Homo sapiens: one gene and its partners. The protein of the gene in region 1 purifies or fractionates together with the protein of each later gene. This does not show direct contact. Each region holds a gene or a part of one and is shown on either strand. Other genes may lie near its edges. The genes, in order: CCDC40, ANKRD26, CYTH1 and HMMR.

What was found.
Region 2: the proteins of CCDC40 (region 1) and ANKRD26 purify together in Homo sapiens (affinity purification with mass spectrometry; 2 studies listed by BioGRID and IntAct, with this or other methods). This does not show direct contact.
Region 3: the proteins of CCDC40 (region 1) and CYTH1 purify together in Homo sapiens (affinity purification with mass spectrometry; 2 studies listed by BioGRID and IntAct, with this or other methods). This does not show direct contact.
Region 4: the proteins of CCDC40 (region 1) and HMMR purify together in Homo sapiens (affinity purification with mass spectrometry; 2 studies listed by BioGRID and IntAct, with this or other methods). This does not show direct contact.

The regions. Positions count from the first base shown.
Region 1 is NC_000017.11:80,032,033-80,039,772, reverse strand, and holds the start of CCDC40 (coiled-coil domain-containing protein 40), read right to left. Parts: upstream 3,132-7,740; 5' UTR 3,111-3,131; coding exon 3,082-3,110; intron 1,651-3,081; coding exon 1,587-1,650; intron 1-1,586. UniProt on the Homo sapiens protein: Required for assembly of dynein regulatory complex (DRC) and inner dynein arm (IDA) complexes, which are responsible for ciliary beat regulation, thereby playing a central role in motility in cilia and flagella.
Region 2 is NC_000010.11:27,096,992-27,105,290, forward strand, and holds the start of ANKRD26 (ankyrin repeat domain-containing protein 26), read right to left. Parts: upstream 3,504-8,299; 5' UTR 3,336-3,503; coding exon 3,094-3,335; intron 1-3,093. UniProt on the Homo sapiens protein: Acts as a regulator of adipogenesis. Involved in the regulation of the feeding behavior.
Region 3 is NC_000017.11:78,694,878-78,702,681, forward strand, and holds part of CYTH1 (cytohesin-1), read right to left. Parts: intron 7,728-7,804; coding exon 7,661-7,727; intron 7,364-7,660; coding exon 7,245-7,363; intron 6,875-7,244; coding exon 6,794-6,874; intron 5,567-6,793; coding exon 5,454-5,566; intron 4,092-5,453; coding exon 3,943-4,091; intron 3,504-3,942; coding exon 3,392-3,503; coding exon of another isoform or gene 3,391-3,391; intron 1,133-3,390; coding exon 1,130-1,132; intron 1-1,129. UniProt on the Homo sapiens protein: Promotes guanine-nucleotide exchange on ARF1, ARF5 and ARF6. Promotes the activation of ARF factors through replacement of GDP with GTP.
Region 4 is NC_000005.10:163,477,030-163,484,833, forward strand, and holds part of HMMR (hyaluronan mediated motility receptor), read left to right. Parts: intron 1-1,654; coding exon 1,655-1,771; intron 1,772-5,574; exon of another isoform or gene 5,575-5,612; coding exon 5,613-5,759; exon of another isoform or gene 5,760-5,990; coding exon 5,991-6,143; exon of another isoform or gene 6,144-6,238; coding exon 6,239-6,338; intron 6,339-7,039; coding exon 7,040-7,216; intron 7,217-7,804. UniProt on the Homo sapiens protein: Receptor for hyaluronic acid (HA). Involved in cell motility. When hyaluronan binds to HMMR, the phosphorylation of a number of proteins, including PTK2/FAK1 occurs.

The DNA of each region.
Region 1 (7,740 bases):
ATAAAGGACCTTGTGAGGTTTTATTCTTTATAGTGTAATTATATCAATGGGAAAACTGCATTTATACCCTTCTCAGCATCACTAAGAGATCATGTTTCACTTTGGGAGGCTGAGGCAGGCAGATCACGAGGTCAGGAGATTGAGACCATCCTGACCAACATGGTGAAACCCCGTCTCTACTAAAAATACAAAAATTAGCTGGGTATGGTGGTGCACACCTGTAATCCCAGCTACTTAGAAGGCTGGGGCAGGAGAATTGCTTAAACTCGGAAGGCAGAGGTTGCAGTGAGCTGAGATCGTGCCACTGAACTTCAGCCTGGAGACAGAGTGAGACTCTGTCTCAAAAAAAAAAAAAATCATGTTTCATGCTTCAGTTTATCTGTTCTTTCTTTTTTTATTTTTTTTTGTGACAGGGGCTCACTCTGCTGCCCAGGCTGGAGTGCGGTGGCGTGATCTCGGCTCACTGCAACTTCCACCTCCTGGGTTCAAGCGATTCTCCTGCTTCAGCCTCCCAAGTAGCTGGGACTACAGGTGTGTACCACCATGCCCAGTTAATTTTTCCATTTTTAGTAGGGATGGGGTTTCACCATGTTGGCCAGGCTGGTCTTGAATTCCTGGCCTCAAGAGATCCATCCGCCTCAGCCTCCCAAAGTGCCGGGACCACAGGCGTGAGCCACCATGCCTGGCCCTCTCTGCTTTTCATAATCATTTTTGCATCCTTTGTTACAGGAAATGAGTTCCGAAAAACTCAGGGCAACCCAAAGTTGGACATCCTTTGCATCCCTGACTAATCACTGACACTGTAGAATGGGGTAGGAAGAAAATGAGTCTCTCTTCAACTGAATTGAGTTTGTTCTGGTGCAAGATAATGTCATCATACAATATACTTGACCAAGTCCTAATTCTCTTTATTTATTTATTTTTAATTTAATTTTATTTATCTATTTTTTGAGATGGAGTCTCGCTCTGTCGCCAGGCTGAGTGCAGTGGCACAATCTCGGCTCACTGCAACCTCCATCTCCCAGGTTCAAGCCATTCTCCTGCCTCAGCCTCCCGAGTAGCTGGGACTACAGGCGTGAACCACCATGCCTGGCAAATTTTTGTATTTTTAGTAGAGACAGGGTTTCACCATGTTGGCCAGGATAGTCTCGATCTTTTGACCTCGTGATCTGCCTGCCTCGGCCTCCCAAAGTGCTGGAATTACAGGCGTGAGTCACCGTGCCCGGCCTATTTATTTATTTTTGAGATAGAGTTTCACTGGTCACCCAGGCTGGAGTGCAATGGTGTGATCTTGGCTCACTGCAACCTCTGTCTCCCGAGTTCAAGCCACTGTCCTGCCTCAGCCTCCCGAGTAGCTGGGACTACATGTGCGCACCACCACGCCCGGCTAATTTTTATATTTTTAGTAGAGATGGGGTTTTACCATGTTGGCCAGGCTTGTCTCAAACTCCTAACCTCATGTGATCCACCTGCCTTGGCCTCCCAAAGTGTTGGGATTACAGGCGTGAGCCACAGTGCCCGTACTCTGATTCTCTTTAATTCCTAGTAAATATAAGCCCGGAATAACTGCCCATAGGGAATTTTACCATGTGGCTTTCATTATTCCCTTCCTTCTCTCCCTCAGAAGCCGATCCATCTTCCGGATGGGACCTGGTTTTAGAGAAACAATTGAACAGTTTCAAGCAACAGCTTTCTTTTTCTTGGTCCTTATCCCCTCCTGAATTCTGCACATCTGTTTATTTACTTGTTACTTCTCTGCCACCCCCAGGCTGTTGTCACGTCTTTGTCCTGTTTGTCAGGAACCATAGCACTATATCATGCCTGTCAGGTGGCGGAGATGCCACAAAAGCAAAGCTCCATGAATGAATGAAAAATATAATTATTAAAACATCGAAGGAACAGCAGGATTAGATCACCCCAGAAAAGTCACCTCAAATATAACTTGTGTCTGGGACAAAACTGGGGAAAAGAAATACAACGTAGAGAAAGTAGCGCGATCAGAGTAAGTGTTCTGGGGACTCTGAGTTTCTCCACGATTTACGTAGCACAGGAATATATATATATATATATATATATGTATATCTTTTTTAAAAAATTAAAGATTCAAGCTATTTTTATCTGTCAAAGGAATATAGATATGTTCAAAGAGACAGACAGTGACAGTTCCCTGTGATCTTCCCTTTCCTTCCCAAGATAATCATTGATAACATTTAGGACCACATTCTTTCAACATTTTTCTATGTTTTAAACACACACACACACCCTGAATTAGAGATCATAGTATACCTACCCTTTTACATTTATGCCTATCGTTTTATTAATAATACCTTTAGTCTTTCCATGTCAATACATACAGACCCACCTTTAAAAAAATGAAACAATACCGATGTGTCTAAGGTAAAAAGGCCAAACTCTTTCCAATCGTTTCTATCCTTTTAAACAGAGCCTAAGCGAGCAGAGGCCCGGTGGCAGGGATCTTCACTCAGCCGCCCTCCCTGTGCGCGCTCAGTGCTTCCACCCAGGCCCCAGGACGGTGACCGCGGACTATCGCGGGCCGCCTAACCGCAGGGACCCCTCCCATCGCGGGTCACCCCCAAGCCTGCGAGAGGGGATCTGTCCTTGCAGGAGGGAGGCGCGGGGCCGGGCTGGTCTCCGGCCACAGCGAGTGGCCCCGGAGCAAGGTCAGGGGCGGTATCCAACAGCCCCGCGCCCTGCAGAGCCCTCTACTCTTAGGAGGACTGCGCGCAGGGACCGCCACGCAGAGTGGTTGCCATGGTGACTGCAGAGTGAGCGGTCCCGGGTTTTAGAGGGAGTCGCGCGCTTGGAGTAGGGGAAAGAGGGAGGCCGAGAGAGGACAAAGGGACAGGAGGGGAGAAGTGAGAAGGGTTGGCGGGGGGGTGAGGGGCTGAACGCAGTGGACGGGAAAGGCCAGCAAAATGGCGAGAGAAGGGACACAGGCGAGAGGAAGGGGGAGTGGAGGCGAAGGGGCGAGGCAGGAGCCGACGCGGGGGCCACCTGGAGCGGTGAACGGAGAGCGCGGCCTGGCGACTCCAAGACCCGCTGCCCCTCGGCCCGGCTTACCGGCCCGCCGCGCCGCCCGGTTCCGCCATTTCCCGTTGCTAGGCGACGCTGTCAACATCCGGCCGGGCCGGGACCACGCGCGCTGCGAGGGCGGGGGCCGCCGGGGGCGGCGCGGCCTTTGTGCCATCTCCACGCACGCAGAGGCGCGCGCCGTCTCGACGTGTCGTCCCTTAGACTGTAATGATTAGAGCACGACCATGCTTTTCCTTTATCGCTCTCTGCGCCCGGGTCCCGCCTCGGCTGCGCTCAATTTCTGTAAAGCGACAGCGGCGTCAGCGTGTGCCCAGCGGGCGGCTCGAGGTCCCGAAGGGACCTGCCGGGCACCTGGGGACCCCGGACTGCTAAGCGCCCGGGAATGGCAGGCGGGCTGGGGGCACCGGGGGCCGGGGACCCCGCGCATGGCGAGCGCTTTTCCATCTCCTGCCCTAGGGGGCTCCGGTGCCCTTCTCCAGGGGTCCTACGGAGACTCCTTGCATGGACGCCCGGGGGGTCTTCCGGAGCGTATCTTCCCTTCCTAGTCCGAAATAGGAGAAATCTCCCTGCAGAGGGCGGCAGCGGAGGGCCAGCGCGCACGCGGAGCGTCCGAGGAGCCCTGCCTTTCCTTTGGGGACGCCAGGCTCGGGACGGGGCACAGTCCCCGAGGCCGGGACGCGGCGAGGCCTGAGGGAGGGCCAGCAGGGAACTAGAGGCTTGGGCCCAGGGCTGGGCCAGAAGGTGGGCGGGGAGACCGGCGGGGGCAGGCAGGGGCCGGGCCGGGGGCGGGCCCGGGGGCGGGCCGGGGGCCGGGCCTCCCCGCGCGTCCCCGCCCCGCCGCGCCTCACTGGCGGCGGCAGCGGCGGAGGCGACGGTGGCGGCTCTCGGAGCCGGCGCGAATCCGGCCCCCGCAGCGGGACCCGGGTGGGTATCGGGGCCCGGACGGGGCCGCGGGGGCGGGGTCCGAGGGGTCCACCGCGCAGCGAGCAGCGCCCCCTCGGCGGAGCTGGGGCGGGGGCGCGCGGGGCGCGTGGGGCGCGTGGGCCTGCAGCCGCGGGACCGGGGAGGGGCCGGGGTCCGGCCGCCGTCCTCGGGGTGCGGGGCGCCAGCAGGAGCGGGAGCGTTGTGGGAGGACCTGGATCACGGAGGGGCACCTGGGGACTTTTCCCCGCGGCGAGTGAGGGCGCCCGGGCCCGGAATGGGCCTAATTCGGGGAGACTGGTCCCCGCCTGTCTGGAGCGGTGGACCGGGGAACTTGCGGTCTTTGTCTGGCTGAATCGGCGGAGCAGACGGATGAGAACTTGTGGGGTGCCGGCGCGCGCCCACACAGCCTCCAAAGTGTGCGTCCCCCCAGCAGCGCGCGCTCAGCTTTCCCGGCCTGTCGGGCTTGGTGGTCTGGGCTGTTTAAGATCCGCGTGTCGGGATACTCACTTCCGTTCCGCCTGGGCTCCCTTGTTCTTTCCTTTGGGAAAAAAAAAAAAAGAAAAAGAAAGAAAGAACGAAAGGAAGGAAAGAAAAAAAGGAAAGGCAACTGAAGATTGCTAAACATAACCTAGGGGATCCTGCCGGAAGCCGCTGAATCCTGAAATCCTGTGATTCCCACACTCGGAAGCTGGTGTCGTATATTGGCCACAAAGTAGTTCAGATTTGATTCAGAAATAGGAAATGAATAGAAAAGACATAACAAAAGTTAGTCTCGCCTTATGGTAAAGTTTGTTTTACTGTCTGGGTCAAGTTCAAATGAGAAGCTGGGCTGATTGGCCAGCCTCTGCGACTTGATCCTGAAGATCTGCTTTCTTTTCTACCAGAAGGCTCCTAATTCTTTTATCTGGAATAAAAAGGGAACTCCGTCTTAAAGATGCTCACGTGAGGCGGCATATTGCCAGAGGGTGGGCGCAAAGACTGGGGGCTGGAGATTCCATTCCAAATCTGTTACTGATTGATCAGAACACTTTTTCAAATCCATGCCTCAGTTTTAGAAAATCCTCATTAGAAACGCTAACAGTAAAATTGGTGAATACTAAACACTTTTAAGAACCATGAAAGCTTTTGTAAATAAAGAATAAAGTGAGGAGTAACTTTTGGTATTAACTACAAAGTTCATTAATGGATGTTGTTTGCATCCTGAGCGTGGTTATTGTGCGCATATTTTTTTGTAAGTGGCATGTTTATGGTGAGACTATGGCTAACGAAAGTTTTTATGGCGAAAGTTTTTATGGCTGGGCGCCGTGGCTCACGGCTGTAATCCCAGCACTTTGGGAGGACGAGGCGAGCGGATCACCTGAGGTCAGGAGTTCGAGACCAGCCTGGCCAATATGGTGAAACCCCCCATATCTACTAAAAATACAAAAATTAGCCCGGTGTGGTGGCGTGAGCCTGTAATCCCAGTACTCAGGAGGCTGAGACAGGGGAATCGCTTGAGCTCGGGAGGCGAAGGTTGCAGTGAGCCAAGATGTGCAACTGCACCCCAGCCCGGGTGATAGAGCAACATTCTATGTCTCAAAAAAAAAAAAAAAAAGGAAAAAAAAAGTTTTTATCTGTGGAATTATTTAATCCTCTAGCAATTTTGGTGATTGCGTTAGTAGTTCCTAATTATCATGCATGAATTCACTTAACCCACAAAACAAGCTCATGAAGTCAGGACTGCAGTTATGCCCATTTACAGATGGGAACACTGACGCTTAGAGAAGTAACTTCCCAAGCTCATGCAGTTAGGAGTGACAGAATTAGGCCTTAGGCCCAGGACGTCCCAGCTCCAGAAAACCGTTGTACAACTTTGCCCTCTGTCTTACAGAGGGTGCCCACCATTCATATACAAACATTCTTCCAAGTGGTTCATAACAGTGCAAGGAGGTGGGACTAATCCCATGTCACCACTAGCTGCTAATCTCAGTTCACTTCAGTATGGAAAGCATCCCCCAGGCTTCAGGATAAAGCCATTGAGTTTGCAGAACCTACCTACAATTGCACTGGTCTCTGTCCACAGTTTTGGGTAATAAGGTGCAGTGGTTAAGAACATGGCGTAGAAAGATGGACTGCTGGCTTCAAATACAAATCCTGGACTGGGCATAGTAGCTCACACCTATAATCCTGTATTTTGGGAGAATCACTTGAGCCCAGAAGTTCAAGACCACCTTAGGCAACCTAGAGAGACCCTATCGCTACAAAAAATGAACAAATTAGCTGGACATGCTGGTGGGCACCTATGGTCCCAGCTATTTGGGTGGCTGAGGTGGGAGGATAGCTTGAGCCCGGGAGGTCAGGGCTGCAGTGAGCCATGACCAGCCTCTGCATTCTAGCCTGGGTGACAGAGTGAGACTCTGCTTAAAAAAAAAACCTAAAAAACCCAAACAACAACAACAACAAAACAACAACAAAAACCCCAACTCCTCTGGCACTTAGTTAATTCTCCAGTGCCTTAATTTCCCCATCTATACTACCTACTTCAGAGACTTTGTGCAAGGATTATGAAAAGCATTGAATTCCTGACACATCCTGAGTTACCATTTAGGATGTGGTAAGTAATGTCAAATGGTAACATTTTAACACTGTTATTAATGACCGTTATTTGGATTTTCCACATTTAACTAGATTGACACAAAACATTTTGTTTTTGTGCTTTGACTCCTCACTCCCCTTTGTGTGGTCCATGAGGTGGAAAGTGATTCCAGGCAGATGTAGGATTTACTATTTGTGCGTATGTGTACCCTTATCTTTACAACTTGACCGGGGGCTGGGTCCCTGCAGGATGCTATGGGGAGCAGAGCTGATCAGGTTGCCTGGCAACACCACCTCCTGTGAAAATTTTAGCTCCCCTTCTTCCCTGGCTGAGGGACCCTGATTTTTGTCACAGGCCTAAATTCTCTTGTAAGATTAGCTACTTTGTTTCATCCAGCATTAAGCACCGGGGGCGGGTGGCTCTGGGATGTGAAGGTGACAGCGCAGAGGATGATTTTATGATCGAATTGTACACCATTTGTATTGCATTTGCATTATATTGCTGTTAATGAGGCCAGTGCACAGGAGAGAGCACACATTTGCACCCTTCCCAAAAATATGGGGCAATGATGTTGGAGGCCTTTTTCCGTTCACCTCAGCGGCAGTGTTTTTTATCCTGTTGGCTTTGTTGGTGTTTTTATCCTATCTGTCCTTTGAGCACCTGATGTTGCATCTCTAATAAATCTGCTTTTATGAGCTGTCTGGTGGCATCTGATTTGAAATACGTTCTTTACTCTGTCTTCGGAACTTACATAACCATCCTCAAAGGATGAGAGAAATCGGGCCACTGTAAGACTAAGTTCGATTTCTGCCCGTGGTGGCTTCTGACACATGAATAACAGAAAGAAAAGAGAAATAATCCAAATCCACTGTCCAGTCGGAATGGCCTGCCCTTCTGTTGCTGAGCCTTGGGCGGTGAGTCTGTGCAGGCGTTGGAAGGTGATACATGTGTCTGCTTGCCTGTATGGGCTGCAGACGCTGAGATGTGGCAGTATTTTCTCCGTGGTCTTTCTGGATTGGTCACTATGAAGCCAACGTACTGCGGGTGCCAAGCCCGCATCCATGCTGGCTTGCACACTTCAGTCGTGTACTGCTTTTTGCATGTTGAGTGAGCCTGAATTCAATGCTCCAATATAGTTCATCATTACTCTAGCCTTCTGGAAGTGGGGGAAAGGGTGAACTTTACAG
Region 2 (8,299 bases), on another chromosome or scaffold:
GCCAACAGGGTAGAACCCCATCTATACTAAAAATACAAAAATTAGCCAGGCATGGTGGCACGTGCCTGGAATCTCAGCTACTAGGGAGGCTGAGGCAGGAGAATTGCTTGAACCCAGGAGATGGATGTTGCATTGAGCCGAGATCACACCATTGCACTCCAGCCTGGGCGAAGAAGCGAGACTTCACCTCAAAAACAAAAAAGGCCAGGCGCGGTGGCTCAAGCCTGTAATCTCAGCACTTTGGGAGGCCGAGGTGGGCAGATCACAAGGTCAGGAGATCGAGACCACCCTGGCTAACACAGTGAAACCCTGTCTCTACTAGAAATACAAAAAAAAAAAAAAATTAGCTGTCCCAGCTACTCAGGAGACTGAGGCAGGAGAATCGCTTGAACCCAGGAAGCAGAGGTTGCAGTAAAGCTGAGATCTGGCCACTGCACTCCAGCCTGGGCAACAGAGGGAGACTCTGTCTAAGAAAAAAAGAAAAAAGAGATAGTAGACTATGTCTGCTACATAACAGGTATTCAGGTTATGATTGATGAATAAATGGATTGAAAGAATGGAAAAATCATTAGGGAGTTCAATATTTTTAAATAAAATTCTTATAAAGTAGAGTAATTCTTTTATTCTTTTGCAATAATATTTATCTTTTTTTTGTTTTGTTTTGTTTTGTTTTTTTGAGATGGAGTCTCGCTCTGTCACCCAGGGTGGATTGCAGTGGTGCAATCTCAGCTCACTGTACCCTCCGCCTCCCAGGTGCACGCTATTCTACTGCCTGCCTCAGTCTCCCAAGTACCTGAGACTACAGGTGTGTACCACCACACCTGGCTAATATTTGTATTTTTACTACAGAAGGGTTTCACTACGTTGGCCAGGATGGTCTTGAATTCCTGGACTTAAGTGATCCACCCTCCTCAGCCTCCCAAAGTGCTGGGATTACAGGCCTAAGCCATTGCATCCAGCCTAATTATCATTTATATTTGGTATTTTTATTGTCATAAGGACACAACTAAAATAAAATGATTGTACCTGTTTGCATATATAATAAATCTATAATAAAAACATGTATATGATAAAATGTATACATAAAATCTATAAATACAGATAAAAAGATACCCTTTACTTTTTCTTTTTTTATTTTTATTTTTTATCTTCTTAATTTTTGGTGGCAAGAACAAAGATCTGCTTTACCTTTCATTTTTAATAGAGACAGGGTCTTGCTATGTTGCCCAGGCTAGTTTCGAACTCCTGGGTCAAGCAATCCTCCTGCCTGGGCCTCCCAAAGTGCTGGGATTACAGTCATGAGCCACAGGTGCCCAGCCAAGATCCCCTTTACTTCTGAAAAGGATAAAAGTTGTCAGACGATAGCAATCCACCAAAAAAAGAAAAAAAAGAAAGTGGGAAATGATTTTTATCTGTGCAAGATTCATATTCCTCTCTTCCCAAGGATTACTTCATTAATAATAAATTTTCACTAGAACTTTTATACATACTCATTGCAGAAATCATAAAGAAAAAAGTTTGACTTATTATACAAATGCCCAGAAATAACAAATTTTACCACTTTTTTTTTTTTTTGAGACGGAGTCTTGCTCTGTCGCCCAGGCTGGAGTGCAGTGGCGTGATCTCCGCTCACTGCAAGCTCCGCCTCCCGGGTTCACGCCATTCTCCTGCCTCAGCCTCCGGAGTAGCTGGGACTACAGGCGCCCGCCACCATGCCCGGCTGATTTTTTTGTATTTTTAGTAGAAACGGGGTTTCACTGTGTTAGCCAGGATGGTCTCGATCTCCTGACCTCGTGATCCGCCCGCCTCGGCCTCCCGAAGTGCTGGGATTACAGGCGTGAGACACCGCGCCTGGCCAAATTTTACCACGTTTTGTACATATTTTCAGCTAACACAAGACCACAGTCTGTATGTATAATCAAACTTTTTTTCTCACTTGAGATACCAAAGTATATCCTCACATGCCAATACACTTCTGTATCTATTGCCACTTTCTTTTCTTTCTTTCTTTTTTTTGAGACAGAGTTTTGCTCTTGTTGCCCAGGCTGGAGTGCAATGGCACGATCTTGGCTCACTGCAACCTCTGCCTCCCAGGTTCAAGCGATTCTCCTGCCTCAGTCTTCGGAGTAGCTGAGATTACAGGCTCCCACCACCATGCCTAGCTAATTTTTGTATTTTTAGTAGAGACGGGGTTTCACCATGTTGGCCAAGCTGGTCTCGAACTTCTGACCTCAGGATATCCGCTTGCCTTGGTCTCCTAAAATGCTGGGTTTACAGGCGCGAGCCACCACGCCTGGCCTCTACTGCCACTTTCAATGGTCACATATTATCATGCACTGACATTTATTCACAAAATCCATTCTATGGGTTCTCCTTAATACACTGCTTAAGCAATGCTGAGAAAAACAAATTACTTGTATATCTATTTCCTAAAGGCATTTTATTTCTTTTTCTTTTTGAAAGATAGGGTCTTGCTCTGTTGTCACTGACATACCTCACTGCAGCCTAGAACTCCTGGGCTCAAGTGATGCTCCTGCCTCAGCCTTCCAAGTAGCTGAGACTATTAGAGTTGGGGGGGGGGGTCTCGCTATAATGCCCAGGCTGGCCTTGAACTCCTGGCCTCAAGCAATCCTCCCGCCTCAGCCTCCCGAAGTGCTGTGATTACAGGCGCGAGCCACCGCGCCTGACGAATAACAGATTTTATAGAAATAATTTTTAACCCAGAAGTTGCTATATTATGGAAACTGCTTATCTCATTATGCACCTTTCCATAAGTGTATGACATTGTATCTTAAATGTGTACATTAAAAATAAAACGCTGTACGTGCTTTTGTTCGTTAATTCACTTTAAAATTGTCACTTAAGTGCTCTCTAAGGGATTTCGGGGGGATCGGAAACCAGCTAGAGTTCTGTTTTTGTTTTTCTGCTCAGAAAGGCGGCCTGGGCGCTGGAGCCCTGCAAGGTGTCACCGTCCCAGGGGCTACGGAGCCCGCGGGAGGCTGATCCAGGCCCTGGGTGGCTCCCACAAAAGGGGCCCCTCTTCCTGCCCGCCTACTCCAGTGGCACTCAGTCCGGGCTTGCGACGCCTATTACCTGTTCATCTTGTCTCTATCGTTCAAGCCATTCTTCCTGAGCAAAAGGATCTGCTGCACTTTCGCCACATTACCCGCGCTGGCAGCTTTGTGGATCTTGCCGAGATCTCGGTCTCGGACGTGGTAGCCGGGCTGCGAGTAGGCGCCCTCCCCCGGCTCGCCCCCGCCTCCCGCGCTGCTCCTCTGCCGCCGCGCGAAGGAGCCCAAGGGCGACTCGCCCTTCTTACTAAAAATCTTCTTCATGGCCCAGGCGACCGGGCTTCAGAGACACCTCATGTCTCTCTCGGCTCTTAACGGCCTCCGGAGCCCAACATAACAAGTCAGCCCCGGCTGGCCGCAGCCTCCCAAAGGAAACTCCGCGGTTTCCAATCTCTCCCTCCGGGTTACCAAGCAAGCGATCCCGCTAGACACAAGTGCGCATGCGCACCTCAGATGGCAAGGTCCACGCGCGTGCGCACGAAGGCCCAGTGGTCAAGTGTGCTCCATGCGCATGTGCAAGGCCCAGACCTCGCAAATCTCGGCGACTGGGACGAGCCCTGCGTTCCTGTCAAACAAATGTCGGTGGGAGTCTGGCTGAGTGTTCAGGACGTTTGCGAAAAGAAGCCTCGCGCCTGTGGGGAAGCAGCCTTTACGCATGACTGGGACTGGAGTAGCGTGGAGTTTTAAGATGCTGAAAGCCTCTTCTCCGAGAAAACTCCCCTAAGAAACTCTCTGAATCTCCCTATCTCTCAGTTTATTCCCCTTCCATGTCCCTTTGGGTGCCATCTGGTCTCCATGAGAACTTAACAGATGCAACAACAGAGGGCACAGGATTTCGGAGATCGTGGCATATGTGTCAAGTGCAGAGGGCACAGGATTTCGGAGATCGTGGCAATATGTGTCAAGTGCAAACTTACGAGGAGAAACCAATGCACATTCTCCAGAAGAAATGAGAACGCATTTCTGCATGCCTCCTTCCCCCACCCCTCTGCCTTTGGCCCAGCCTTATGTTTTATTTTTTGCTTTTGATTTTCCAAGGTTACATCTCTTTCTTCTTTTTTTTTTTTTTTTCCCCAACAGAGTCTCGCTTTGTCGCCCAGACTGTAGTGCAGTGGTGCAATCACGGCTCACTGCAGTCTCCACCTCCTGGGCTCAACGATACTCCCACCTCAGCCTCCTGAGTGAGTAGCTGAGACTACAGACGCAAGCCACCACGCCCGGCTATTTTTGCATTTTTTGTAGAGACAGGGTCTCACCATGTTGCCCAGGCTGGTCTCCGACTCCAGGGCTCAAATGATGCTCCCATCTCAGCCTCCCAAAGTGCTGGGATTACAGGTGTGAACCACCACGCCCAGCCTAGATTGAATAATTTGACAACAAATTGGAATTAGCAACGCAGACGTCAAGTGGAGTCTCAGCAGAAATTGCTGCTGGAATGCACCTCCATAGCTCTGGACAGCTCTAGGGTCCCTTGTGGAGGAGGTGGCTGGCCCCAGAACAGGCGTCTTTATTGCCAAGTGAGAAATGAGCAAAAACAAAACAACACTTCTCAGGCCTCTCCAGCTTAGCTAGATCAAATGGTTTTGATGTGGGAGAGTGGTTTCCACTATCGTCACCAAGAATTTTCCTCCTACACTACCCCAGCTAGAAAGTTATGTTGTCTCCTCAACACTCCCCAAGGTGATCTATGAAGCTAGTCAAGTCCCAGCACTTTAGGAGGCCGAGGTGGGTGGATTACCTGAGGTCAGGAGTTCGAGACCAGGCCAACGTGGTGAAACCCCGTCTCTACTAAAAATACAAAAATTAGCTGGGTGTGGTGGTGCATGCCTGTAGTCCCAGCTACTCGGGAGGCTGAGGCAGGAGAAACACTTGAACCTGGGAGGCAGAGGTTCACACCACTGCCTCTGGAGTGGAGACTCTTGGATGGAGACCACGACTCTCTCTCAAAAAACAAAAACAAAAACAAACAAAAAATACTCAAGTGTGGAGAACACTGACTCTGAACAGAGGACTCTGACATTTCCTAATGCAGCCTGAAATTAAGGCCAAAGACATTACCAGTCTGGATGGATATAGGAATCACACACCACTCTCCAGGTAAGTTGTAGAGATTTGGTTGACTATAGTGTTTTTGTATAGACCAGAGATACCCAAGGACTATATGTTAGGCCAGCTCTGAGGTGTTGAATTCATCAGCCAAATGCTGGATCCCCAAAAAGTTTCTTGGAGTTCATTGAAAGCTAAGATCTCCCATTCATATGGAAATTAATTTCAGATCCAGAGCAGACACCCTCTAGAAAGTTGTCACTTGGAACTCCCATGCCTATCTAAGGCTAAAGTAATGCCCTGGTTCAGTTTTCCTATACCCTCATTTAATAATTATGTCAATGAAATTAATGTGTTAGGGGAATATTTGTTTTATAGTGAAAATCAACTGAGATATGAATGCCTTAGCAAATCCCTTAGATAAAGCTCTTTTTTTTTTTTTTTTTGAGATGAAGTCTCGCTCTGTCTCCCAGGCTGGAGTGCAGTGGCACGATATCTCGGCTCACTGCAAGCTCCGCCTCCTTGGTTCACACCATTCTCCTGCCTCAGCCTCCTGAGTAGCTGGGACTACAGGCGCCCACCACCACACCCGGCTACTTTTTGTATTTTGTTTAGTAGAGACGGGGTTTCACTGTGTTAGCCAGGATGGTCTCAATCTCCTGACCTCGTGATCCGCCCGCCTTGGCCTCCCAAAATGCTGGGATTACAGGCGTGAGCCACCGTGCCTGGCCAGATAAAGCTCTTTAATTCCAGTTCAAGGCTGTCACACGTGTTTTCTCCTTTTAAGAGTTACCAAGAAACTCATCAAACCCTTTTCCAAAACTGGTTCATTCATTCTTTGAAATGTGTCTTCCCATGCATTCTGCTGTGTCTATTGAGGAATAATGAAACTATAATTAAACCATGATTAGAACATAAGGGCTCAAGTGTGTTGAGGCCCATCTACCTGTATCTCCTGGAGATCCAAGACCTGGGATGATCACAGTAAGGAGGCCACCACATTAAACAGAAACATGTTCTGGGAACCTTCTTTATTCTAGGTATTGTGAGAGTCAGTGAGGAAACAACAGATGTGTTATTCTTCACTTCAGGGAGGGAGGCAAATTTCATGTTTAGTGCCACATTAAGGGGGAGCACAGAGGGCCTATAGAATCATGTCAAGAGAAGGGTGGTAGGTCATGGAGAGAGGCACATGAAGAAGTGATGTCAAAGCTGAAATTTAGGGCTGGGCATGGTGGTGTACACCTGTAATCCCAGCACTTTGAAAGGCTGAGGCTGGCGGATCACTTGAGCTCAGGAGTTCGAGATCAGCCTGGGCAACACAGCAAGACCCTGTCTCTAAAATCAAATTAAATTAAATTTTAAAAGCTGAGACTTAAAGAATAAACAGGAGTTTGTGAGAGGGGAGAAGATGGAAAGAAAAAAAAAGTACATCCTAGAAAGAGATAATGTGTCTGCCAGGTTTCAATCAGGAGAGAAACCACTTAGTAACCTGAACAAGAACAATTTAATACAAATAATTATTTGCTATAGAAGTTTGGCATGGTAGCTTGTGCCTGTAATCCCAATTACTTGGGAGGCTGAGGCATGAAGATGGCTTGAAGCCAGGGGTTTGAGACCAGCCTAGGCAGCATAGCCAGAACATGTCTCCAAAAAGTGTTTTAAAATTACCCATGGCCAGTGCCGGGCGTGGTGTCTCACACCTGTAATCCCAGCAGAGATTACATACCTTGGGAGACCGAGGTGGGTGGATCACTTGGGGTCAGAAGTTGGAGAGCAGCCTGGCCGACATGGTGAAACCCCATCTCTACTAAAAATACAAAAATTAGCCAGGTGTGGTGGCAGGCGCCTGTAATCCCAGCTACTCGGGAGGCTGAGGCAGGAGAATAACTTGAATCCAGGAGGCGGAGGTTGCAGTGAGCCAAGATTGTGCCATTGCACTCCATCCAGCCTGGATGACAGAGCAAGACTGTCTCAAAAAAAAAAAAAAAAAAAAAAATTAGCCATGCCCAGACATGGTGGCTCATGCCTGTAATCCCAGCACTTTGGGAGGCTGAGGTGGGCGGATCACTTGAGGTTAGGAGTTCAACACCAGCCTGGCAAACATGGTGAAACCCTGTCTCTACTAAAAATACAAAAAAATTAGCCAGGCATGGTGTTGCATGGCTGTAATCCCAGCTATTCAGGAGGCTGAGGTGGGAGGATCGCTTGAACCCAGGAGGCAGAGGTTGCAGGGAGCTGAGATCGTGCCTCTGCACTCCAGCCTGGGTAACATAGCAAGACTCCATCTCAAAAAAAAAAAAAAAAAAAAAATTATCCAGGCTCAGTGGCACATACCTGTAGTTCCAGCTTCTTGGGAGGCTAAGGCAGGAGGATCACTTGAGCACAGGAGTTTGAGACCAGCCTGGGGAATATAGCAAGACCCATCTCGGGCCGGGCATAGTGGCTCACACCTGTAATCCCAGCACTTTGGGAGACCGAGGTGGGTGGATCACGAGGTCAGGAGTTCGAGACCAGCCTGGCCAACACGGTGAAATCCCATCTCTACTAAAAATACAAAAATTAGCTGGGTGTGGTGGTGCATTCCTGTAATCCCAGCTACTCGGGAGGCTGAGGCAGGAGAATTGCTTGAACCAGGGAGTCAGAGGTTGCAGTGAGCTGAGATTGCGCCATTGCACTCCAGCCTGGCAACAGAGTGAGACTCCATCTCAAAAAAAAAAAAAAAGACCGCATCTCAAAGAAAAATTATTATTAACTGTAACAGTAGTATAAAAGTGAAAAGAAAAATCTAAAGAATCCTTTAGGATGAGATTACACCCAAAGTATGAACAACTTAAAATGAGTGGCTTCACAAGGCTGGGGATTCAGATGTCCTTGGAGAAGGTGTGGTTGCCAAGGCCAGAGCTGGTCCACAGTCATCGAGCAAACAGCAAACGCCCTTCTGGAGTACCAGGGGCCCAATCTGATACGTGCATAGATGGTGTGAGGAGGCAGGAAGCCCAGTTCCCCACACAGCAGTACAAGGCTTGAGGGCAGGAAGTTGTTACAAGCCTGCTCACGAAGACCATGGTGTCCATGTTAAAAGGGTTACTGGCTGGGGCCAAAGCTCAGGGTACTCAAGGAACTGCATGCTCTGGGAATGCACAGCCTGGGCAGAGTACTACTGACATTGGTGTAGAAGG
Region 3 (7,804 bases), 1.3 Mb from region 1:
GGGGAACATTTCCACGTGGAAAGAAAAGCAGACATGAAACAAGCAGACAGATCAATGTGCGCCTAGGACAGTCCCTGTGGAACTCACAGGACCACCTCCCACTGCACGGCTCCTCAGGCCTCCTGTGACCTCCCCGAGACATCAAGGCCGGATGCCATCTTCCCCTACAGTTGAGAACAACCTGACAAGTCCCTGAAGCATCTCAGTAACTGTGCGTGTTTGGGGTTGTTCTTTTTAAGTGTAGCTACTGCTCAGGGAATGCTTAGGCACAAACCTGAGGGGTCTTGGGCTAAGAAAATATGTTTCCCCAAAAAAACCAGCAAATGGAGAGGAGACACCAAAACCATAACCAGGAGACCGATTCGGGGCTTTAACGAGGACTCGCTGAAAAAGCGAGGGAGCAAAACAAAACATAACAACAGAGCCGAGGCTGTTAATACCCTTCTCTGATCCCCAGGAAACTAAACACGAGGACTTCAGGGAGGGTTTTTTGGTTTGGACTTGTTTTTTTCACCTTCACTCGGTATCATTTTGAGTTTAGGAAATACCATTTCCCCTTTTCGTGCAAAGGCAAATGTCTTAAGTATCATCTAATTTAGTTCTTTCCCTAGTTTGCTTTTCCATCATGGTAAATCAGAAGCTTTCCATAGCTTTGGGAAGTCAAGACTTTGTTCTCTCTGGAGTAAGTCTCAGCTTGAAAAAAGAAGAAAAAAGAAAGACTTCCTTCTCTTCTTTCTCCTCTTCCCCACGTCAGAGATTAACTTTCAATCAGGCTGATTAATGGACGTCAAATTGAATATCAAACATAGCGCATGTCTTAGCCAATAATTCCAAGTGAAAATGTCATGGAAACTTCCTCTGCTTTTACAAACCCACTCTTAGTATGTTTTCTTGCATTACTGCATTCAGTAATGAATATAACATATACTCCTCCAAAAAAGAAAAACGAAAATTGCTCCAAACCCCTGATCCTGACCAGTTCCCTAGGGACTGTACAATAAGTTAGAAGCAGCATTAACACTACCACCGGCAATTAAAAAACAAAATAACCAAAAATAACGAAATCAGAAAATGCTGCAGTAATGACAGTGGCCTAGCAGAGCGAGCGAGCAGGCTGAGGGTTACATACCTCCTGGAGTTTGGGGCAAGGAAAAGGAGAGCCAAAATCATGGAAACATACAAATGAGGGAGAAAAGAAAATTAAAACAAAGAAATTAAACCCGATTCCTTAATCTTAAAGTGCAATGTATCAGTCACATTCATGCCTGCCTGGGGAGAGAGCTGAACTAAAAACACTCAACGGGCAAATGATCCCACTACTGTCTGGCACGTGAACGAGGGGCTCTTACATGCCACGTTCCACCTCATCAAGGCAAGATTTGAGGCACTACTGGAAACCTGGCCCCAAAGATGCCACAAATCGGCTTTTACAAAGCCAATGTTTACTAGTATATCCAGAATCAGAGCAAAGAAAGCTAAGGTTATTTCAGGGAAAATTAAATGTCTTTCTTGAGATGGCTGTCACTTTTTAAAGTGTGTGTAAGAATGCACACACATATACCCATGAGTACACATGTACTGATGTGTATACACAAGAATACACATTCTTATGGCTATATGCATACACAGACATATACACACAGCTACAGACGGCTGGAAGCCCTGCCTTCTGCAGCACATAAACACAAAGAGTGATACTAAGTGTGCTACAATGAAAACACAATATTCAGAGTCTAGAAGGATTTGATGGAGGTTTAGAAAAAGTAATGCAATGAGCTAAAACTGAGTCCCACACTTGGTTAAATTTTCTCTTTTTTAAAATACGAGATGCCTCATGAATTTGCATGTCATCCTGGTCTAAGAACCAAGATAATCTTTGTACTGTTCTAATTTTAGTATCTGGGCTGTCAAAGCTAACACTTAGTATTAGCATTTAAACAAATCTCGCTGTAGGGGGAAGTAAATCCAAACTTGAACACACTTTAAACGTTTCCAGTAGGTTTCCTTTCAACTCCATCCACTTGGCAATAGGAATGTGGAAGGGAAGGCTGCCTATGGGGTTAGTAATTTTAGAGCCTTAACTTCAAAGATTCTGGGGGCTTAAAGATATATAAAATGATGGCCAATTCAAGAGATATTTAAAACTGATCGGTGAAGTGGTGCTGTAAGGGGAATTTATGAATTAAGTCATTATGTATAAGCACAAGGACTTGGGATATGACTTTAAAAGGAAATATAAAGTCTACTGCTATCTGACCTAGTCAGAAATAAAGGATTCCATTTTAGCCTTCCCAGATGTGTCAGTAATGACCAAGAGAGTACTGACTTCTAATCACTGGGGCAAGCAGTTGGGCTGGTATAGGACGGAACAGCCCCTGCTAATGTGAGAACCCAACTCATCAAAGGCTAAAGCAGAAGGCAACAGAGGAAAGTACCCTGCTAGTGTCCAAAAAAAAAAAAAAAAAAAGGACATCATTATGTCCAGAGAGTCTAGAGCTCTATGTTCTGAAACCATTAATAAAGTAAACACATGTGGACATGAATGTGTATGAAAACCCTACTAAAGTCTTTCCTATTGATTACCCTGTCACCTTCACGGCAAGGCATGACCACAAATCTCAGCAATACAAGCTCATCACTTCTGGCAAAGGGAAGAGAAATGCATTTTCAGCTTTTCTAAATGAACAAAATAATTAATGTGGCTGATTCAGATTGAAAAGGAGGGGAAAAAAAAAAGAAAAAAAAAAAACCACTGCCCAAGAATGAGTAAGAGTGCTGTGGATTGAGCTGCAGCCAAGGGCTCTAGGCTTGCCATGCACACTGCCTGTGGGGGAGCCAGATGCAGAAGGAAGTGACGATGCACTGGGGTGGGGGCAGGAGCGCCAGGTACAAATCTGTGGGATGGGAAGTAGAAAGATGGACAAGGTCGGCCACCCTCCCAGTGGTTATGGGGACAGGGAAGGCAAACGGACCAGGTGCTCAGGGAACTGCCTTGAAACAAAACCTGGTCAACCAATTCAAGGGTAAAAATGTGGAGCACAGACACATGTGGGCAATATTTATGGTGGAGTAAGTCTGTCCCCAGTAGTCTCTGTGTCCCATGGGGGCAATGACTATGAAGTCACTTCCCTTTTGGAAGCCGACCTTTGTTAGAACAGAACTCATACCAAAGTCTCTCTGGAGTCCTCTATAAGCCACCCCCTTTCCTACATGGTGCGTGTGTGTCCATGAATGTGTGTGAACATGCATGCGCGTGCACACACACGCACGCGCACACATGCACACGCACAAACACGCACACGCGCACACACGCACGCACGCACACACGCACACACACCGCCTTTCTTCCTAAGTCTCAGCTTTAGGAGCCCTGACTCAGAGGTGCGCTTACCGAGTTTCAATAGCCAGCCTTCTCGGTCTGGATTGAAGAAAGTGTGAGTGAGGTCATTCCCGTCGTCTTCTGGGATTTTAAAGGGTTCATTTTTTATGCTCTCATAGAGATTCTGGGATAAAAGATGACAATTTATGTCTCTGATTCTAGAAATATTTTTTCCTCCTCCCCTTTCTCTTCATTCATTCCACAAGCATTCATGTGCCTATAGTAAGCCAAGCCTGCTAGATGCTGAGACTAGAAGATTATGACCATTTCTGCTTTCAGGCAGCTCACAGTGACAAAATAAATAAGCCTTCCCAATTAGGAAAATAAAGAAGCAGCCTGACTTCTATTCAAGCTTTTAGTTTCATGTTTACAAACCACTGTCCCCTCCCTGATTCCCTAGCTGGGCCTTACTACCACTTTCTTAATGAAATTCACATGGTTAAACAAATTAAAAGAGGAGACCCTTGATAAATTGTATGTTTTTTCTTCCTTCCTACAAAAGACGATCCTGTTCCCAGTGAACTCTTTCTTGACTTGAATGAAGACCATTCTTCCTTGCTTACCCGGAGGAGCTCCTCCGGCAGGTCTCCCCCATCATTGATGCCTCGGTTCATGGCAATGAACCTCTCCACAGTGGGCTTATCTTTGACATTGGGGTTGTGCAGACTGGTGTTCAACATGATGATGGCAAAGGAGAGGACGTAACAAGTATCTAAAGATGAGAGAAAAGCAAAGGGGAGCCGTTGCATGCTCAGATGTTCAGAAACATCCCACCCGCAAGAGCAAGAGTGGTATCAGATGAAATCAGGAATAAAAAACCATGTTCTCGGCCAGATGCAGTGGCTTACACCTGTAATCCCTGCACTTTGGGAGGCCAAGGCAGGCAGATCATGAGGTCAGGAGTTCAAGCCTAGCCTGACCCACATGGTGAAAACCCGTCTCTACTAAAATACAAAAATTAGCCAGGCGTGGCTGCACGCGCCTGTAATCCCAGCAACTTGGGAGGCCGAGGCAGGAGAATTGCTTGAACCTGGGAGGCAGAGCTTGCAGTGAGCCGAGATAGCGCCACTGCACTCCAGCCTGGGCGACAGAGTGAGACTCCATCTCAGAAAAAAAAAAAAAAACATGTTCTCAAAAGAATGAGATGAATCCACATGTACGGGTACACTCCAGGGCACACTGCTGTCTGAAAGGAGCAAGGCACGAAAAAGTATATAAAGTATTCAAGACTTAAAGCTGTTTATTTTTTCAGATTGGAAAGGAGAATACACACACTGTAGAAACTCTGAAAAACACAATGTGTTTAAAACAAAATGACCTGTAATGACCCATAATCCCACTATCTAGCAATAATTTATTTTGCTTTATTTCCTCTACGTAAATATGACTATGTATAACTCACCACATATTTATCTCACAGATATATACTGTAACAAAACTGGAAACAAACAAATACATACACATGCTTTTTTGCTAATCTTAATATCATTCTCCTATGTCAATAAAAATTCTTTGTAACAATATGGGTTTCTTTAGTTTTTGTTTTGAGACAGGGTCTCACTCTGTCACCCAGGCTTGGAGTGCTGTGGTGCAATCATAGCTCACTGCGTGTAGTCGTAAACTCTTGGGCTCAAGAGATCCTCCTGCCTCAGCCTCACAAATAGCCGGGACTACAGGCATAAGCCACCACACCTGGCTAATTTTTAAAAATTTTTTTGGAGAAAGGGTCTCATAATGTTGCCCAGGCTGGTCTCAAACTCCTAGCCTCAAGCAATCCTCTCACCTCGGCCTCCCACCCAAGGTGCTGACATTACCAGTGTGAGCCACTGCATGCAGCTAAAACATGGTTTTTAATAGCTGTGTATTTCGTAGTTCAGAGGTACCACAATTTAAATTCATAGTGCCTTAATGTCAGACTTTCAGGTTATTTCCAACATTTTACTATTATAACTATCATTGAGTAAACGTTCCTAGGCATGAATCTCAGCCCTTTTGTTTTAGAAATTATCTGGTGCCAAGAAAATAATCCAGTGTAAAACGCCCATCATAAACTAGGATGAATGATCGTATTTACCCGTGGACTGGAACACGCCATTATTGCACTGACAATATCGCTGGGCAAACGCCTCCATCATCCGGTCGATCTTCTGGGCCTCTCCGGGTAGCCGGAAGCTCCACAGGAACTGCCTGAGTGGGTAAAGACAGAGTGTTCCAGAACTTGGGGAGGCAATTTATTTCTCTATGAATTGTTAAACTGCCAATGATTTTTTTTTTCTTTTTTTTTTTGAGATGGAGTCTCACTCTGTCACCCAGGCTGGAGTGCAGTGGCGTGATCTTGGCTCACTGCAACCTCTGCCTGCCGGGTTCAGGCAATCTTCTGCCTCAGCCTCCCGAGTAGCCGGGACTACAGGCACACGCCACCATGCCCGGCTAATTTTTTGTATTTTTAGTAGAGACGGGGTTTCACCATGCTGGCCAGGCTGGTCTCAAACTCCTGGCCTCAAGTGATCCACCCGCCTCAGCCTCCCAAAGTGCTGGGAGTACAGGTGTGAGCCACGGTGCCTGACCACTGCCAATGATTTTTTAACATCAAAGTGCAAAGGGAACCCTGCTGGGCTGCAGCCTTCTGTTACTGTAACTCTGAACAGATGCAAAGTTGCCATCCACACCACTGTTACCTTAATCAAAAGTAAAATTTTTCTTAGGAAAAAGTGAAAAATTAGGAGGGAAACAATCCCTACTGAGGAGTGGTTTCCCTCCTCAGAATAATATACAAGACTGAAACATAGATAATGCTCATTTTAAACAAACGCTATTTCCGGAAACAATATGGGTGGCAGAAAAAGAGAAGATTGTCTTGTCAAAGCATTAACAATCGATCCCTTTAAGTCAAAGAAAGAAAGACCCACAGCTGACAGGTTTAATTGTGGATTGTTTCCATCCAGCTAAATGATAGCACAAAAGATGAAGTCATTATTTACACCTACAGCAGTGAAAATACAGAATGACAGTTTCTTAAAAGGCATGAGGTAACAGATTTAATAAAAAATTAAGGTTTACTTTTTTCTTTCCAAAATGAAATGTATAACTACTTATTCCAGGGCAAGAAATTAAAGGATTTTCTAAACTGAAAAATTTCAAAATTTAAGTATTCATCAATTTCTAAAACCTCAAATATAAGACTCAAGGAAGAGTGTTACAGAATCGGCCTCCAGAACGTAACAGAATTGAATTCCCCTTGACCATCCAGTCATTCCCAGTCAGAGACCAATAGATTTCTTCCCTCCAAAATACTTCAAAATATTCAAATCATACCCAAAGATATAATTTCAATAAAATGCCCCCCAGGACAGACTCATGATCAAAGGCTAGCCTCCCACTCCTTCCAAAGGGGCTCACCTCAAGAATACTCACCGTAGTGCCTGGACGAGATTAAGATCAGTGAACTCATGCAGCTCCACAAATGCATGAAGAACCTGGATATTAAACTCATCTCTATCGAGAAAAGACAAAAAATGGGAGAGAAAGCAGGAGTCAGGCACCAACACTGAGAATCTCCAGCCAGGCCATGTCTCCTACACTGCGTCCTGTGGTCCTGTGGCTCCTGCCCAGACAGCCACTTGTGCACACTGTCCGCAAGAAGACTGGCTAGCTCTGCTGACTGGCTGAACAAGCAAGATGTCTCCATGACCCCCAGAAAAGACCCATCACTATTCCCCAGAAAAGCCTCCCCTCAACTCCAGTGGGGCTACAGATGCTTTAAGGCAAAAACCCCTCCAAGAACTTCAGAGTATTTGGGAGTTTGTTTCTTTGTGTCGTTCCTGAACAGCCTTCCCTAGCATGCGCATAATCCCCAAGGCCTTACCTCTCCCCTAGGTAGTCGCCGATGGCTGTCTTGTTGAGCCCTTCGCCTTTATATAAGAACTGGGCAATGTCTTCACAAGTGTTCTTCAGGAGGTCGTTCTCTATTAAGAACTGGATCCCCTAGAAAAAGACAACAAAGACGCCAATGATGCTTTGCTGGGAAACAGTTGAAAAGAAGGGGAAAGGGCACAGGAAGAAATGGGTGTGGGTGCACTGGAATATTTAATAAATACTTGCTAAGTGACCTATAAAGCCGGGGAGTCACAGTTTAGGAACAAGGGCTTAGTGCATAACATTTGCTCTACAAAACGGCAACATGAACTGTAACGCTTGGAAAAAAACGTTTTTAGGGTCTATCTGAGCACTATAAAAAAACCCCATCTAATATGGACCACTTCCCGCTTCTTTCTCACTTACCTTTTTAGGGTCCATATTAAATTTTTTCCTGCCCATGGCTACCTGTTTGTTCCTCTGCATGTTTTTCCTGTAAAACAACCATCACAGCCATTTTAGTACTTCAGGCCATCGGAAAGGCTTGAAAGACTAATATGATTTCCACTG
Region 4 (7,804 bases), on another chromosome or scaffold:
CAAAAACAAAAGAAAAACTGAAATCTCACTTTTTTCCCGAACTCTAGTTCCTTATAATTTCTGCCACATTATGTTTCCTTCTCCCATACACTTATTTATTTCATTTTGTTTTGTTTTGTCCATAGTAATTGCTAATTTTTTATTTATTAAGAGAAACTATTCCTTAGCCTACATATTCATATTTCATAGTTCAGGAACACAGGTTAGTGACAAACACTACTACATTTATTTAAATTAAAAAGTCTGATTTGATTCTTGAGTTCAAATTGCAAATATTTAAATCCTTGGGATCTGATCATTAAAACACTTGTTGTCAAAGGACTGTGGGCTAGATATGAGTTTGTATTATTGTAATATATCTCACACCTGTGTATCTGTCTCAGTGGATACTTTTGTTATTAATCTTTTCTGTTTTCTTATGATTAGTGATGCAAATGAACAGCAAGGTTTTTCATATCCCTGCTTTTGGGGGAACAATACAAAATTGTAATTAGGGGTGTTGTTCTATACTACAGCCAATCTCAGGGAACAGGAATCTTGGGAAAATAAGATAATGTCATTTTAAGAGAGGAAAGAAAATTGAGATAATTTTTTATTCCAACTCAAAAAACTGTGGTCCAATGGTCAAGAGATAAGGATTTTTATTACTAATTCTGTTAGCTAGCTGGTTGATTCTGAGCAAAACAATCTTAGTTTCTTTGATCTTCTACTTCATTAGATATAAAAGAGTTTTATTAGATGGTCTCTAAGATCCCTTCTAGCCTGGAAATTTCAAGCTTAAGAGAAAAACAAACTAAGAATTGAAAATAATTCCTCTAGGGGACAGGGAAGAAAATATTTTTATTATAAACTCTTTAGTCATATTTGATTGCTCTTGCTGTGGTGTGTATATTTTTGAAATCCGGCACTTGTTACAGAATGAATTTGATCAGCTATTTTTCTTATCTCAGTGTCCAACTTAGTCTATAAGTACACAATGCTTATTTACAATTTTTAGTTCTGTATATTCTTTAAAAGATCTCTCATAAGCTCATATGCATATCTAAAAATTTTATCACCACTTTGGAAATATATTATTTCCAAAATATCCCTGAGATTTAATAGCATATGTATATAAAAATGACTTAAAACCCATTCTGTCTATGCAAAATAATCCATTAAAGAAGTTATTAAGTCTTTCAGTAATAGAGTATTATGTGGGTTATTCATATAATCAGAATAAATCCACAAAGTCTTGTAACTCTGTAGTTTAAAATGAAGTGGCTTTAATTGTTCATGGTATTTCTCAAGTGTCTAAATGGAGAGAATGAAACTTTATTCAATCCAGATGTTTTTTGACTGGTAATCTTTTGCAGTCTTTAGTCCTGGCTAGTATCTTAAGATTTGGTTTTATAGTCTTTTATATCCTACTACCTTCTTCACCCAAATTTTTAAAGTAAAATAAGCAGGAAAGATAAGTTGAAGCTAGTAGAAAAATGCATAAAAAACATGCTTTCGAGGTAAGTCATAAATTAGGATCTGAGCTATTTAGCAGGTAATGCAGTGGTGAAGATATGAGCTATATGATTCACAGTTTCAAAGGTAAATACTATTTTCTTTCTTAGGGTAGTAATTGTAGGTGGCATTTTATCTTTCAATTATTTCTTTTTCTTAGGAAGGAGGCTGAACTGGAGAAAAGTAGTGCTGCTCATACCCAGGCCACCCTGCTTTTGCAGGAAAAGTATGACAGTATGGTGCAAAGCCTTGAAGATGTTACTGCTCAATTTGAAAGGTATTTTTCTTGGGAGCCTGCACTCTTAAATATGATGTGTGCAGAAAGGGGTGTTTACCCCAGGAAATATGTGAGCAAAGCAGTCACACAAAGGATGATTCATACTAGTTTAAATTCCATAATCACCAACCGTAAGTGGGCATTTAGCATTATCTGGTAATCTTATTGTATTTATATAATTCCCCTTTATAATTTATAGAAATTCCCCTTTCTCACCATCCACTTCAACTTTTATGTGCTGAGCCAGGTGCGGCAGCATATGCCTGTAGTCCTAGCCACTGCATAAGCTGAGGTGGGAGGATCAAGTCATGTACTTAGAAGCATTTGGTGCTTCTGCCCTACTCTCTTGATGTTATCATTTTCATAAAGAATTCAGAAGTTTTTATCTCTTGCTAAACCTATAAAGAGACCCACATTTATACTCATCCTATCTTCCCACCTATTACAGATGAAATGTCCTAGTCTTTTAATCTTCAGTGACCTCATTCTATCATTTTGTTTTCTCATAATTTGAAACCTTTTTACTGGAATTTTTCCAATCAATATTAAAACATGTTAATGTACATCTGTCTGTAAAATATATTAATTAGCTGGCCACTGTGGCTCATACCAGTAATCCCAGTGCTTTGGGAGACCAAGGCAGGAGGATTGCTTGAGGTCAGGAGTTTGAGACCAGCCTGGGCAATAGAGTAAGACCTTGTTTCTACAAAAAAAAATATTAAGAATTAGCCAGGCATTGTGGCACATGCTACTTGGGAGGCTGAGGGCAGGAGGATCACCTGAGCCCAGGAGTTCCAGGCTGCACTGAGCTAAGATCACACCACTGCGCTCCAGCCTGGGTGACAGAGCAAGACTGTCTCAAAAACAAACGAAAAATAAATAAAATACATAAGTTGTTTTAAATACTTCTCTGACCCTAACTTCCTTTTGTAGCTGTCTCACACCACCAGTCATTCCCTTCTTAACCCCAAATTCTACTCCTTTTCAGTCCTTTTCCTTCTCCTCCTTTTTCTTCTCTTGACAGAGAAGATTGTCTCTATATCCACTTCCTCACCTCCCATGCCTTCTACTTATTTTCTCCTTAAATAAAAAGTTTATTTTGGGTGGAACTACAAATTACAAAGGCCAATATAATGAATACCTATATATTAATGTTAACATTTTTATTTATCACATTTACTTTAGCTCATTTTGGGGGAGAGTTTCCTTTCTTTTATTTAATAAATACAAAAGAATGCATAACATGTACATAAACTGTAGAGCTTGAAGATAAAACTGACATGCATGAACCTATAAAAGACAACCAGTAAGCCAAAAGATTTTCAACAACTTAGTATCCATATGTAAGTTCCTCTGCCATCCCATGAAAATGGGACAGATAACACTGTCCTGAAGTCTACACTAATTATTTCCTTGCTTTTTCCCCCCTGTGTATTATAATTTTATGACACGTATATCCATACAAATAATGCATTATGTAATTTTCCTTCTCCTTGAACTTTACCAAAAAATGTCATCATAGTATATGCCGTTTCCTGGGACTTATTTTTTCATTCTGCATTATGTGTGTTTTCAGGATTGAATTGTGTTGTCTGAGGCTATGGTTTGTTGATAGTCACTGCTATGAGTATTTTATTGTATGAATATACCACAACTTATTTATTCATTCTTTGGACTTTGAGTTGTTTCCCATTTGGTTAGTTATTATTAGTTATTTTGTGACTATAAGAATACATGTATGTAAGAATTTCTCTAAAGCCAAAGGTATATGAATGTTCAACTCTAAAACTTAATATCAAATCACTTTCCAATGTGGGAGTAAGAATCTACACTCCCACTAGTGTTGTATAAGTTTCCATTTATCTTCTTTGCCAAAGCTTGTTAGACTTCTTAAACTTTGCCAGTGTACTTAGTGTAAAATGGCTTCTTATTGTGGATAATTCATCTTTCCTTTTCCATAAAATGCTTGTTTATGACTTTTGTTTATTTGTCTATAGGGTTATCATCTTTTCCTCATTGATTTGTAGAGGTTTTCTTTATCAGCCATATGGGTTACAGGTATCTTCTGCCAGTTTAGCTTATTTTTTTATTTTCTTTTTGGTTTCTTCTGATGAGTGGAAATTCTTGATTTCAATATGGTTAAAATATTTATCTGTATGTGGGTACTTTTGCTTCTCATTTAAGAACTTCTTTCTATCTCAAGGTGTAAAGATATTCAACCAGTTTTCTTCTAAAAGTCTTAAAATTTCACTTTCCATTTTTCCACCTAGAACTGATTTCTGTGTGTGTAGCAATATAGGGATCAAATTCATTTTTTGTTTTCCCTATGGACAACCAACTGCCTAGTTTAATTTAATTCATTAAATTGTACCTTGTTTCCCCAGTGATCTGTTCCCACATGTGATACATTATGACAGACACATAGATAAATAATTTATAAGTGTATATGTTTTATTTATAATTTTTATTGTATCAGAACATATAAATCATATAAATATATGTAAATTTTATATATATATATTTATTGCTAATATCAATCCTGTAAAGGAATTTCCCTTCTCGTTAGTTTGAAGAATAGTGCTTCAGGGGGTTTTTATCTATTCTGTGATTTTAGTCACTATCCATATACTCGTGGCATTAAAATTTATTTCATCAAACCAGACCTTTCTTTACAGCTCCATATTCACATATCCAGTTACCCACTTGACATCTTCAAGTAGATATCACACTGTCTTTTAATATTAACCTGTCCAAACCAACTCTTGATCCTTCCATTGCTTTCTACCCCTAGTCTCTCATTGTTTTTATTGTAATCAGTGACATCATCTTCCCAGCTTTTCATTCTGTAAATCTTAGAGTCATCCTTCATCATTCTCTCTTCCTTACCCCCAATATTCAGTCTATCTCTTGAATTTTCCTACTCTGCTTCCAAAAGAGATCTTGTGTCTTTCCATTGCCAGCTCCTTAGTCTAAGCCTCCTTTATCACTCACCTGGGCTGATAAATAATTGTTTTGGAGTTGATCCTTCAATTTTCCATTCTTTTCCCCTGCCCTAATCCATCTTCCTCATAGCTCTAGAGTGAGCTACACATTTAATTAAACACCTTTTTATTTTATTTATTTGTTTATTTTGAGTCGGAGTTTCGCTCTTGTTGCCCAGGCTGGAGTGCAATGGCACTATCTCAGGTCACTGCAACCTCCCCCTCCCAGGTTCAAGTGATTCTCCTGCCTCAGCCTCCCGAGTAGCTGAGATTACAGGTGTCCACCACCACGCTTGGCTAATTTTTTGTGTTTTTAGTAGTGATGGGGTTTCACCATGTTGGTCATGCTGGTCTCGAACTCCTGACCTCAGGTGATCCACCCGTCTCGGCCTCCCAGAGTGCTGGGATTACAGGCATGAGCCACCACGCCCAGCCTACTTGGACACCTTTAATGGTTCCCGTCTGTCCGCCAGGTAAGCCCACTGTGCCCTGCGGTGATGACCCTCATGCCACCAGCTTCTGCTCCAGCCTTTCTTACTCATTAGGCTCTAGTCTCACTTCTTATTTTTTAAATTGTGAGTAATTTTCATGCTTGGTAGTTGATTTCTTTTCCATCTCTGTATGCATACTTCCTGCACCTAGTAGGCACTTGATTTTTTTTTCTTTGAATACACAGCAGATGCCATGTAAACTCATTAGTACTTGCCTCAGAACACTGAATTCTTACCTGTGTTAAATGCATGAATACATTAAAAACTTTTTAGTTTTACTTAGAAGTATATAAAGTGTAAACTAATCAGTTATGATTGTCATACGCAATAGTTAGAAAACTACTTTGACTTTTTTTTCTTTTTAATAAGCTATAAAGCGTTAACAGCCAGTGAGATAGAAGATCTTAAGCTGGAGAACTCATCATTACAGGAAAAAGCGGCCAAGGCTGGGAAAAATGCAGAGGATGTTCAGCATCAGATTTTGGCAACTGAGAGCTCAAATCAAGAATATGTAAGGTATATAGAGCAAATAATGGCCTTAGAACCATTAAGACAATTTAATGTTGAAAGCCAGCTAGTAACTGTCCCTTGGCTTGCTTTTGGCCATCTTATACTGCAAATTAAGAATTTACTCAGTTAAAAAATGACACTTCTTGAAGAGTTCCTTGAGGTTTAAAGAAAAAAAAAGGAAAAATTAATGAAAGTGGCTATAAAATGTTTAGTGACCTCTTCTCTCTCAAACCAAAGGATGCTTCTAGATCTGCAGACCAAGTCAGCACTAAAGGAAACAGAAATTAAAGAAATCACAGTTTCTTTTCTTCAAAAAATAACTGATTTGCAGAACCAACTCAAGCAACAGGAGGAAGACTTTAGAAAACAGCTGGAAGATGAAGAAGGAAGGTAATCTATGATTAGAACCTGAGTGCCTTGTTAACTCAGTTACGATGTGATTTTTTAAATAACTATGTTTTTCTCAATTTAATTCTTCCATGCAGAAAAGCTGAAAAAGAAAATACAACAGCAGAATTAACTGAAGAAATTAACAAGTGGCGTCTCCTCTATGAAGAACTATATAATAAAACAAAACCTTTTCAGGTTTGTCAGTTAGGAGTAAACTTACTTGTGTTTATTTTAGGGACTCACTTTGTTCCCTATTATAGTGAGGACAGTGACTCGGGTTTTCTGCAAGATCATTTTGCTCTGCACTTACAGTGCCAATTTAGCTCACTATTAAAGGTTTATACATTTTATTAAATTATGCATAATTTTTTCCCACATTATTGAAGTATAATTGACAAATTTAATTGACATAATTTTTTCAATGGACCCTTTGTGGTTTAAAAAAAAACTTTGTAATGTGGAACTTAAAAGTTTGGCTCAGAGGGCTTGCCTGGTATGAGCTTTTGATAATTAACCTATTTTAATTTGTGGTATGACTTATTGCAAATACTCATTGTTTCTCAATATACTGATCTTTTAAAAGAAAAAAGAATAAATGCTGATTTTGGAACTTAGAAGTACAGTATTGGTTATAATGTGGTAATCTAACTGATACAGATAAAACTGGCCAGCTGGCTTTTTTACCTTGTTTCTTTTCCTCTGTTTTAATGATCTTTAAAATGAAAAATACAAAGTTTAAAAGATTCTCATAGAGAATCTATGGAGAGCCCTGAGAATATGTGAACATACCTTGTTTTCATTTGTGTTTTTAATTTTCTTTAGTGTTTATGGTTTATATGAAACTAGTAAGATCAAACTGTTTTAAGTCTTAACTTTATTTAAAAAATCTTTTTCAGCTACAACTAGATGCTTTTGAAGTAGAAAAACAGGCATTGTTGAATGAACATGGTGCAGCTCAGGAACAGCTAAATAAAATAAGAGATTCATATGCTAAATTATTGGGTCATCAGAATTTGAAACAAAAAATCAAGCATGTTGTGAAGTTGAAAGATGAAAATAGCCAACTCAAATCGGTTTGTAAAATGACTTTTCATTTTATTAAAGATATTGGAGTGGGGGTTATTCTAACTATAATACTTAAATAAAATGAATATCTTTGGTATCAGAAAAAAATAACTGTTTATAGAGGAAAATTGAGCTGTGATTTAGTGGATTTATTTTAGAGTGTTGACCAGATGGGCATTCAATGTTCTAAAGTTTTCTAGCTACCTTCTTAATATATTGAAAATTACTTGAGTAATTGGATGAATTCATTAAGCTTTACATATCTATTTCCATTTGCAAAACTGCAAACTCCTTGATGTAAAACCATAAAGAGAAGCAGTGTTCAAAAATATTTGGGCATTTAAATTTTTTAACATATGTATTGAGATATAATTGACAACCCATACAATCCACCCATTGAAAGTGGACAATTCAGTGTTTTTTAGTATACTCACAGATTTGTGCAACCATCACCATAGTCAATTTTAGGACATTTTCATCACCTCAAAATGAAACCTTGTTATCCTTTTCCTAACACTCTCCTATCTCCTCACCCCACCCCACCCTTCAGCCCTAAGAAACCACTAATCTACTTTCTGTCTCTGTTGATTTCCCTA